Homo sapiens: one gene and its partner. The protein of the gene in region 2 purifies or fractionates together with the protein of the main gene of each other region. This does not show direct contact. Each region holds a gene or a part of one and is shown on either strand. Other genes may lie near its edges.

The links. The genes of interacting proteins can lie anywhere in the genome.
Region 1: the proteins of ARHGAP26 (region 2) and CA2 purify together in Homo sapiens (affinity purification with mass spectrometry; one large-scale study listed by BioGRID and IntAct). This does not show direct contact.

Annotation. Positions count from the first base shown.
Region 1 is NC_000008.11:85,476,880-85,481,438, reverse strand, and holds part of CA2 (carbonic anhydrase 2), read right to left. Parts: intron 4,320-4,559; coding exon 4,164-4,319; intron 770-4,163; coding exon 650-769; 3' UTR 1-649. UniProt on the Homo sapiens protein: Catalyzes the reversible hydration of carbon dioxide. Can also hydrate cyanamide to urea. Stimulates the chloride-bicarbonate exchange activity of SLC26A6. Essential for bone resorption and osteoclast differentiation.
Region 2 is NC_000005.10:142,768,145-142,773,757, reverse strand, and holds the start of ARHGAP26 (rho GTPase-activating protein 26), read right to left. Parts: upstream 3,382-5,613; 5' UTR 2,997-3,381; coding exon 2,843-2,996; intron 2,532-2,842; exon of another isoform or gene 2,429-2,531; coding exon of another isoform or gene 2,383-2,428; intron 1-2,382. UniProt on the Homo sapiens protein: GTPase-activating protein for RHOA and CDC42. Facilitates mitochondrial quality control by promoting Parkin-mediated recruitment of autophagosomes to damaged mitochondria.

The DNA.
Region 1 (4,559 bases), on a different chromosome or scaffold from region 2:
TGATATATTGTCTGAATGGAAATATACTCTGTATCACAACTCTAATTATAACAATTTTTACAGATAATACTTCATTTATATCTCTGTAATTCAAAAGTCATTAAATTACAACAGAATTCATATTTAAGATAACTTTGCTATAAATATATAATAATTTTTAAAGTTTTTCTTTAATATAACATCTTGAAATCATGAACATTTATTTTTTCTGGTTTACATTACATAGAATCATGACTATTTTACCTGATTTGCCTTAACTAGCTCAATTTATCTTGTGCTATGGATTTGCACTCAACCATTCTACTTTCCTATGTTTTAAAAGCAGCATTTTAGTCAACAATTGTGAGTGCTCATCACCCTACATGCTGTGAACAAAGTCAAGGTACTTTATTCTTATTTCTTATCCTATATTCTGTGTTACAGAAAAACTACTACCATAAACAAAGCACCAACCAGCCACAGCAGTTGTGTCAAGCATGACAATTGGTCTAGTCTTCACATTTTATTAGTAAGTCTATCAAGTAAGAGATGAAGGGTCTAGAAAACTAGACACAAAGCAACCAGGGTCCAAATCACCAAGGTAGATCTGTGCTTAGCTAAAGGGAAACACCCGAAGATTCATTATTTGGATACAGACTATGGGACCATCTTATTTGAAGGAAGCTTTGATTTGCCTGTTCTTCAGTGGCTGAGCTGGGCGCCAGTTGTCCACCATCAGTTCTTCGGGTTCACCCTCCCCATTGAAGTTAAGTTTACGGAATTTCAACACCTAAAAGACACAATAAAACATTGATAATTAATGTTTCACAATGGTATTCAGTTATATACTTGTGTTATATCTTTAAATACATTCCCCGGCCAGGCGCAGTGGCTCATGCCTGTAATCCCAGCACTTTGTAAGGCTGAGGCATGAGGCGGGTGGATCACTTGAGGTCAGCAATTCGAGACCAGCCTGGCCAACATGGTGAAACCCTGTCTCTACAAAAAAAAAAACACACACACACACACACAAAAATTAAACAGGCGTGGTAGAGCACCTGTAATCTCAGCTACTCAGGAGGCTAAGGCACAAGAATCATTTAAACCCTGGAGGCAGAGATTGCAATGAGCTGAGATTGCGCCACTGCACTCCAGCCTAGGCGACAGAGCAAGGCTCTGCCTCAAAAAACAGAAACAAAAACAAACAAAAATTACATTCCACAACATTCAGTGCTGTGCATCAATGGCCAAAATTCAGTTTGATTCCTAATGAATACATAATCACATATAGATTATGTATGTATGCTTTAATATAACAAACCAATTTATACAAAATACACAAATTCGTTGGGGTCATTTTTAAGGGAAATTTTCAGTGACCTTCTAATTTAAAAATCTAACATCAAAAGTCTATAAACTCATACCTTTAGATGCAAAATAATAACAATTTTAGTTCCAAATTAAAGCTTTGTTTTCTGCCCCAGGGAAGACAAACTACCACATCCATACAATTAGATCAAGTGATCAGGACCTGTAAGCTCCATGGGCTGAGTGACGAGCTGGCATCTCCAAATACACAAAAACACGGAAATGAATTTGCCTAGGCTGATTTGCCTTAAGAAGCTCAATTTATCTCATGCTATGGATTTGCACTCAACCATTCTACTTTCCTGTTTTAAAAACAGCATTTTAGTGAACAATTGTGAGTGCTCACCACCCTACATAGCCCTACTGGCATTTTGCCAATATATGCATTTAACATTAGAACCCCTTGTCACTGGTTGATTTTTATTCCCTTATAAACTTGTTTCAGTTTACTGGCCACCACTGAGATACAGGCAGCTGTTGAACAGTCTCCCACTTCTTCAAGGTTCTCAAAAAGTGCTACTTTCCCCCCTCTAACCAAGACGTGATCCAAATGCAAAAGGGTGGTTTGGACAGTAATATAGCAGCCCATGAATCAACAGCCTTTAACCTGATCTCTTTTGTCCAGTAATAGTCCCTCAATCACCCCCGTAGAGCCACCTTCCATGCACATACATTATAACATGCACAGCTATGGTTACTGAATGCAAGGGAGCATTCTAAGGATATATAGGGTTGATTCGTTACAACAGAATTCCAGCAATCTGAAAGAGAGTCTGTTCATAAAGTGTAAACAGGTCAAACTTTTGATCAAACCAGTATAACCGATTTCTGCTACTCACTGCACCAATTAAACTACACTGTCACATTAGTCAACTTGACTCATTGTTTTAGCATCACAGAGACAGAGCCTGGGTATAGAAAATAAAGGTAGCAGAATTAGCAGACCCATTTATACTGCTTACCTAAAATCCACGCCCCCCCATACTTCCTCATTAACAGACATCCGCCCTCTCCCTGTAAGCCTCAGTGGGGTAAACCTGCAGGTCTTAACTGACTGTGATGATCACATTCCCGGGCTAGGGACTGAGCAAGAAACACAATTCTAGCCAGTGAGAAGTGAAAGGTTTTCTAGGGGCCTTCAGGAAAGAGCTTCTCTGCTCTTAGGAAGCCAATGGAAGAGGTATTCATTTCCTCCTCAAGAAGTGGTTATATCTAGATGTGATGCTCAAAATGCTATTACAACCACCTTGAGGATGAAGTCACCAATTGGCAAGGCCAAGTCAAGGGACTCAGATAGAGGAGGACCTGCAGCCCTAGCTTCCTGAGCTGAGCATGATCCTTCCTCCAGATTCCATGTTATAGGACAAAAAAAAGAGCCCTATTGGTATTTTGCCAATATATACAATTAACATCATTAGTTTAATACCACTTTCAACTTTAAAGAGCAAACTCAGGGTACAGGGATTAATGCAGTAGGTTCAACTGCCCTTATCTATATGTGTATTTCTGCCTGTGGGTGTGTATACACCATAAATCCATTTGTTATAATGGCTCTAAATGTCAGACTATTGCTTTAAAGTTGCATTGCTCTCAGTGAAAGAAGAAAAAAAAATTCATGTTTTAAATTATAATGTAAACACTGCATCTACAAAAAGAAGGGCATTATAATCTTTCCTTACGCTACACTTCAAGAAGCTTACTCAAATATGTTATTACTACAAGGTCAATCTTCAAGTGACATACCAAGCATGCTATTTTTTAGGCCCACTTTGATATGCTACAAGTAATTTTCCAGTCAGATACATATTTCCTTTAAAGAAAGATATGAAGTATCTTCAGCATTCATAAGTTCATATTCTAAGGGAGGACACAGGAATAGAATCCTTGCTCCCAGGCCTGATTCTGTTGCAAGGTAGCTGAGTGGAAAACACTTCAATTTTCCTGCATCTCAGACTGTTGATCAATGTGATTCAAGCCAGTGAAATGAGAAAGTTGGACAACATGATCTCTATTGCACATTGCAGCTCTAAACCTCTATTATTCAGCATTTTTGTAGGTTTAAATCACACTACCACTACTCACATAGTTACCATTTTCAAGACTGTTGGCTCCTAAAGCTATCCTTAAATTATTCAGGATCCATCCTCTTGTGAATCCTAAGGAATGTTCACTTTCTACATTTCAACTGTGCGCTAAGAGGTAAGTCTAGGAAAAACTCATTTGTATCCACTTTAGTGGCTGCTCATCAGTGACTTAGAAGCTGCACTAATCACTTGACGATCACACACTATATTTTATTGGAAATGTAAGAATACCTGCTCTAAGCCTCTAAAGCAACCTGGAGTGAGTTTTAATAGATACATGTTCTCCAAGGGATGACTCTCATCTGTCAGGATTCAGAAATGCATTCTGATATAAATAAAATAGCAGAAAGCCCTTATGTGAGTGAGTAGTAGGCTGGTAACTCACTGATACCTGCGTAACCTTGAATATGAACTCTCACTTTTCTAAGCCTTAGTTTCCTCATAACTGGCAAAAAAAAAAAAAGGCATTTATTAGGTGACAGACATCTTTCTCATTGAATCCTTACAATGACTATTCAATTTTAGAGACTAAACGAACTAAGTTTATAGTTAATAACAACAAAGATTTACTGAACGCTGTTTATTTGCTAGGCACCATCAAAGGCACTATTTCCATAGCAAGAAGTAGCAGGAGAAGGATTAAATCTCAGTTCTCTCTCACTCTGGAGGCCAAGGTCTTCTGCCTTGACTAAATGCTCCACCCGTAAACAGACCTGTCATTACAAAACAAACCTGCTCGCTGCTGACGCTGATGGGTTCCTTGAGCACAATCCAGGTCACACATTCCAGAAGAGGAGGGGTGGTCAGTGAGCCTGGGTAGGTCCAGTAATCCAAGGATTCAGGAAGGAGGCCACGAGGATCGAAGTTAGTGAAGTCAGCACTCTTGCCCTAGAACAAGGCAAATACGCAGCTTCAAACTATCACATTGACAGAGTAGGAGGAAGGTAGGAGAGCAGCAGACACAAATAGGTATACTCCCCTCTGATGGTCAAAAACACTTTTTAAAAAAGAGGTTCTATATTCACTGGCAAACAAAATAAAGAGAAATTAACAGAAGACATTCAACTTGAAAATATGTGGCAAGTCGTAGTAAAAAAAAAAAAAAACTATTTTCACATGTCCATTTTT
Region 2 (5,613 bases):
AAAAGAAACTCTGCTGCTTTACAAAGCCAAGACATATTCAGCCACTCTCATCTGTCCCTCTAGCCTTCAAAGCCCGTGATGGAGAAAGAACTCCAAAACTTCAGAGGATAATACAAAATCTTAGCTGGTCTTTGCTACCCAGGGCTCGGAGTCTAAAAAACAACTGGCAATGTTTTCACTTAATCAAGCACCTGCTGCATGTTTCTCCTTTACGGGATCTAGATCTATAAAGAATTTGCATCTCCATTGCCAGCATCTCATTCATAAAGTGGAAGTAATAGTAACAATGATCTACCTGAACTTTGGCAATCCCTAGAGGACAGTTTTATTGCCTATGATTAACACTCAAAACCAAGTTAAATCCAAAGAGCTAGAAATACTAGTTATAAAATAACTGTAAAATAAAATAAAATATGGCTATAAAATAAAGCCACAAAAGTTTAGAGCTATAAGAGAACATAGATTATCTAAACCCAGTGTTTATATAATTATGTATTTATGTTTAAGTTGTACTGGGAAAACACTTCTGTTTATAGATATAATAAACATGACTGAAGAAAAATAATACACAAACATTAATATAGTAGTATACCACGCAGCAAGCATCTCATGATATCGGAATGTCTGAAATCCAGGACACAATGGTTGACTCCACCCTCTATTTTTAGAGGTCACCTGACCTGATCAAGTAGTAGTTAGTAGTGGTAGAATACATTAGCAGAGCTGGACGTAGAGAGAACAGAACACCGAGATCCCCATCAGTCTTTCCTCCAGATTACAGGGCTGATCCATTCCATTAGACAGCTTAAATAACACTTCAACTCTATCACTGCAATGTTTCTTCCTACCAAAGAATTCTTGCCCCCAAAAACTAGTGGTAGGAAAACTGCCAGTCACCCAAACGCACCCTCCTCAGATTCAATGCCAAAATAGAAAACACAAGTCCAAATTCTAGGGCTTGGTGCAAGAGGTTCCATTCCGGGCAAGTGAGATGGGGCAGAAGTCAAGAGCTCTGCACTGGCAGGGACTCCATCTCTGGCTCAAACCAGGTGGATTCAAAAGCTCTGGTCCTGCTGCTAGAGCTGTGTGACTCAGAGGTAATGCTTCCCCCAGTCTCTGTTTTCTCATTTGCAGAATGAATCTAAGCACATGAGATAATTATATGTGAAGCAGTGCCTGGAATGAAGTACACCTCTGTAAGCACAGGAGCAGCAAAATATTCACTCCTACACCCTTAGTGCCCAGTGCAGTACCCAGTACACCACAATCACACCAAAAGTTTGCTGAGTGAAGCAGAGAACTCACTAAAGCCAGCCTGAGGTTCAATCAAAATTCCTGGGCCCAACCTGTAAGTGGGCCCCTAACTTACTCCAAACCAGGGACCCCCATCCCCTAAACCAAGAATGGCCTTGATTATTGACAAAGGAAGGGTCTGTTCATATGTTTCAGGTAAGGCACAGCCTAAGAATCTGCCTCTAAGAAGCCTCATCACATCACAGTCCTGTGTTCATTTCATCCCAAAAGATTGGCACTTTGGGCTGCCCTGGCATTCCATTGTCTCTCTCTTCATTTTTAGAAGCAACAAGCTGACAAAATGACATCTCAGGCACCTGACTTTTGTAAGTGCCCTTTAAAGAGGCCTGGGAACAATTCCCACAGCTACGACTCTACTCTGCTAAGGCAAGATTTCTTAGCTGAAAGGTATCACCTACTAAGAAATCCATCACAGAAACAGATACAGTAACAGAGTCAGAGACAATTCCACTATCTGCCTTCATGTGGTTCCTGATTCTTAAAACTAAAAGATGGACTGAGCTATTTTTAAATGGGGAGACTGAAAAGGCACCAAAAACGTTCTCACAATCCAAAGCACTCATCCCTAGAGCACGCTTATTTGGCCAGAAAAAGAAACTCTCTGGCTCTGCAAAAGTGAAGCAGAATGCAAAATTGCATCTCTCCCCTTGTACCAAAAGGAAAAAACGCAAAAATGGTTTTACAAAAGGTCCAAGAATCTTTGAAATACGTTTGAACTTCTTTCTGAGAATTATGGATATTCCTTCTCAGACCTTTACAAGGATAACGGAAGAGGTAAAAAGGAGAGCTTGGGAGCAGGAGAGGGAGAGAGTTGGGATATGTACATTCTATTTTTAAACCCTCGCCCACAGTTTAGAGTAAAGGAACACTCTGATTCTCTACTCCCACCCCTATCACCTTCTGCTAAACACAAGAATCAGAACCTGCGCACGTACTGATTCCAGATTTAGAGATTACTGGCTGCCAATACTCCAAGGAATCGCAAGCTAACCAAGCATTCCACCCAGGGAACCCGGCGGCCTGACTAGGCTGGAGCTGCGTACAGGGAGCGAAGCAGTCACAACCCACCTTTTCCCAAGGGGAGGCAGCGCCCCCTCGGCAGGGCACGCTCCATTCTCACGGTTGGGCACTCAAGGCTGAGCAACTCTGCCCCTAAGGGAGCTGGAGCTGTGGACACGATGGGATCTGCCCGCTGGCTGCGGCGCGCTCGGCACTCTGGCCCCACTGCTGGGACACCTGCGTGCCGCGCACGCCCACGCCCACCCGCGCTGCCCCAGAGCACCACCCGCGCTGGGTCACCTCCCGACCATCCCTGAACGCAAAAGGCGGAGCGACGGGTCTCTCTCTTCATCTGATGGTTGCTGGTTCGCCCGCTTTACGTATCCTTCCTGCCTCGGAGGCGTCGACACCCGTCCCCCAGTGTACCGGGAGCAGAAACCCGGCAGACGCGCGGGCAACCCGGGCTAAGCGCCACCTCCCAGTTCCTCCCGCCCCGGAGCCGCGTCCCCGAGGGGCTCGGGACACTCACTCTTGAGCGCGCTTATGAGTGACTTCCCGTCCTTGATGAGCTCCTTGATGAATTTGTTGGTCTTGTCCAGCTCTGCTTCGTGCGACTTGAGCGTCTCTCGGAAGTGCGGACTATCGAGGCAGCAGTCGCTGAACTCGAGCGCTGGGAGCCCCATGGTGCGCGCGGCGCCCAGCCGGGGGGCGCGCCTCCGCCGGGGCCCGGGCCGCCCGCCGCCCAGAGCACTCACGCGGCGGGACCCCGGCCGGCTCCCCCGACGGCCGCCGGCTCCACAGGTGTGGCGCTGGCTCACTCCGCGCGCGGTGTCCGCCGGCGCGCAAGACTCCCGAACCGAGCTCGGACCCGGCCGAGGTGCTGCTGTTCCGGGCGCGGGCAACGGAGCGGATCGCGAGCAGGAAACGCAGCGCGGACCCGCAGCGGCGCCGGGAAGCGAGCGAGCGGGCGAGCGAGTGCAGACGCCGCCTCCCCGCCTCCTTCGCTAGCTAGCTCTCGGCAGCCTCGAGCGCCCTCTCACAGCAGCCTCGGCCGCCCCGCCGGTGTCTGGGCCGCTCGAACCTGCTAGCGATGACTTAATCCCCGCCGGGCCAATCAGCGCACCCTCCCCTGCCCGACCCTCAGGCCGCCCGAGGACGCCCGGCCCTTCCGCGGTCTTGATCCAATCAAAGGGGCCTGGAGGCAGGGTCTGCGGCTGGGGGCGTGGCCCTCGCCAACGCCTAGGTCCGCAGCGCAAACTCCGCCTCCTCTTGCCCTCCCAGCGTTGCAGACCCCGAAACCTAGGGGTGAGCGTTGCTGTGCACCCGCCCCCGCTACCTTGCCCGCCTGCTCCAGCCCGAATCCGAGCCACGCATGGCGAGTCTGCTGGTCCTGGGGGCCGAAGAGCCTCGATGTGCCAAGCATGAAAAACCTGGGGACTAGGGCTGCAGTTCACCACCGCCTGCCCTGCACTGCGGGGCAACCGATTTTACACTCAAAATACAGCCCCCTGCTCCGGGAGAATCCCGAGCGACCAAACGCTCCTCTTCCAGTCAGGCAGAAAAATGTTATTTGCATCTTAAAATTACCAGCTCTTGCCTGCAGTCTTCCCGCCCCCTACGGTCCGTCCCCCTCACGGCCACTCCTGCTCAGAACCCGCCCACGGTTCCCCTCAGCCGAAGGAGCTCACATCATTACTAGAATTTCAGCCGCCTGTTATTTTCCTGCTCTGCATCTAGCACAATTTTACATAATAAGATGACAGTCTACTGCCTGTCATCCTTCGCTACACGGTAAGCCCCACGAGGGCAAGTGCCCCTGCAATTTTCTTGTCCGCTGTTGCATCCTGGCACCTAGCACAGTGGCTGGCATTTAATAACAGATATTGAGCACTTACTATGTGCTGTGTGTGCTACGGTGATTGATAAATGTAGAATAAATGAATGGATCCTTTCCCAGAGCCATCTCCACCTCCCACGCCCAGTGCGTTGCCCTGTAGTCCCTCTGTTCGACCGCAGGACTCAATTCTGGCATCTCACTCGTTGCACTTGTCAGGCTGGGTCCCACAGGGTGTCTAGTGCTGAATTGTTAACTCCTGGAGGATAGGGACTGTCCTTGAATAAATTATCTCTATGTCTAGGAACCAGCAGCCCTCCTTCAGCTACGTGGGGGCTTCATGTTTGTTTGGGTTGGTTTGTTTTTTAAATAGGTCTGCTATGTGCAGGCACTAGCCTAGATGGTAAGAATACAAAGATGAATAACAGAATGAATTTAGCTGCTGGTGGTATTAGGTGAGATGGAAGCAAACAAGCGATAACCATGCCTTGTGATAGGATAGAAGGCCTGGGTGCTTGGGAACATGGATTTTTCACTCAGGAGGGGTCAGAGGTGTCCCATCTATATTAAGAAAGCAATTAATGTATTAAATTCATAAATGGAGCATGGTGGCTCACACCTGTAATCCATAACTTTTGGAGGCCAGGTGAGAGGATTGCTTGGGGTCAAGAGTTCAAGACCATCTTGGGCAACACAGCGAGACCCCCCCCATCTCTACAAAAAATTGTAAAATAAATAAGTAAATGTATAAATAAGTGAATGTGATCTCTTTGATAGGTGTATCTACAAATTTAGACTTGATAGCAGGTCCAGACAGCTATCTGATAGATAATTACAACCCAAAAACAATTGTTCTTCACTTGCCAAAGATGAGAAAGATCTAGAATGGAAACCCTATGAAAGTAAATCTGTTTAATGCTTTATCTTGAGCACCTAAAGGTAGGTGTTCTGGTTATCTATTAATACAGAATAAATGATACCAAAAGTTAATGGTTTAAGACAACAGCAATCATTTTATTTTCTCTCACAATCTCTGTGGGTTAGAAATTTAGGGAAGCCAAAGGCTTGAGGTCTCTCATGTGATTGCAGTTGGATGGTGACAGGAGCTGGAGGAGTGGATGGTTAGCTGGGCATCCCACTTTTCAGGTAGACTCAGGGCTTCTCCATATGGCCTTTCTCTGTGGCCCAGTTTAGGCTTCCTCCCAGTATGGCAGCCTTAAGGCTCCAGTGTGAACATATACAGCTCACAAGGAGAAAGGTGCATCACCTTTTATGACCTAGCCTTGTGAGGTGAGAGGCCTGCAGGACTTGTTTTCCAATCACAACCCCACTGATCAAACCAGGATTCATTCCAAACGGGATTCAGTGAAGCAGCCAGCAGAAACCAGCAGGCAAGGAAAAAAGACACTTTTAGTTGCCCTCACTGCTCATTAGCATAGAGACACTCCCACCATTGCCATGACAGT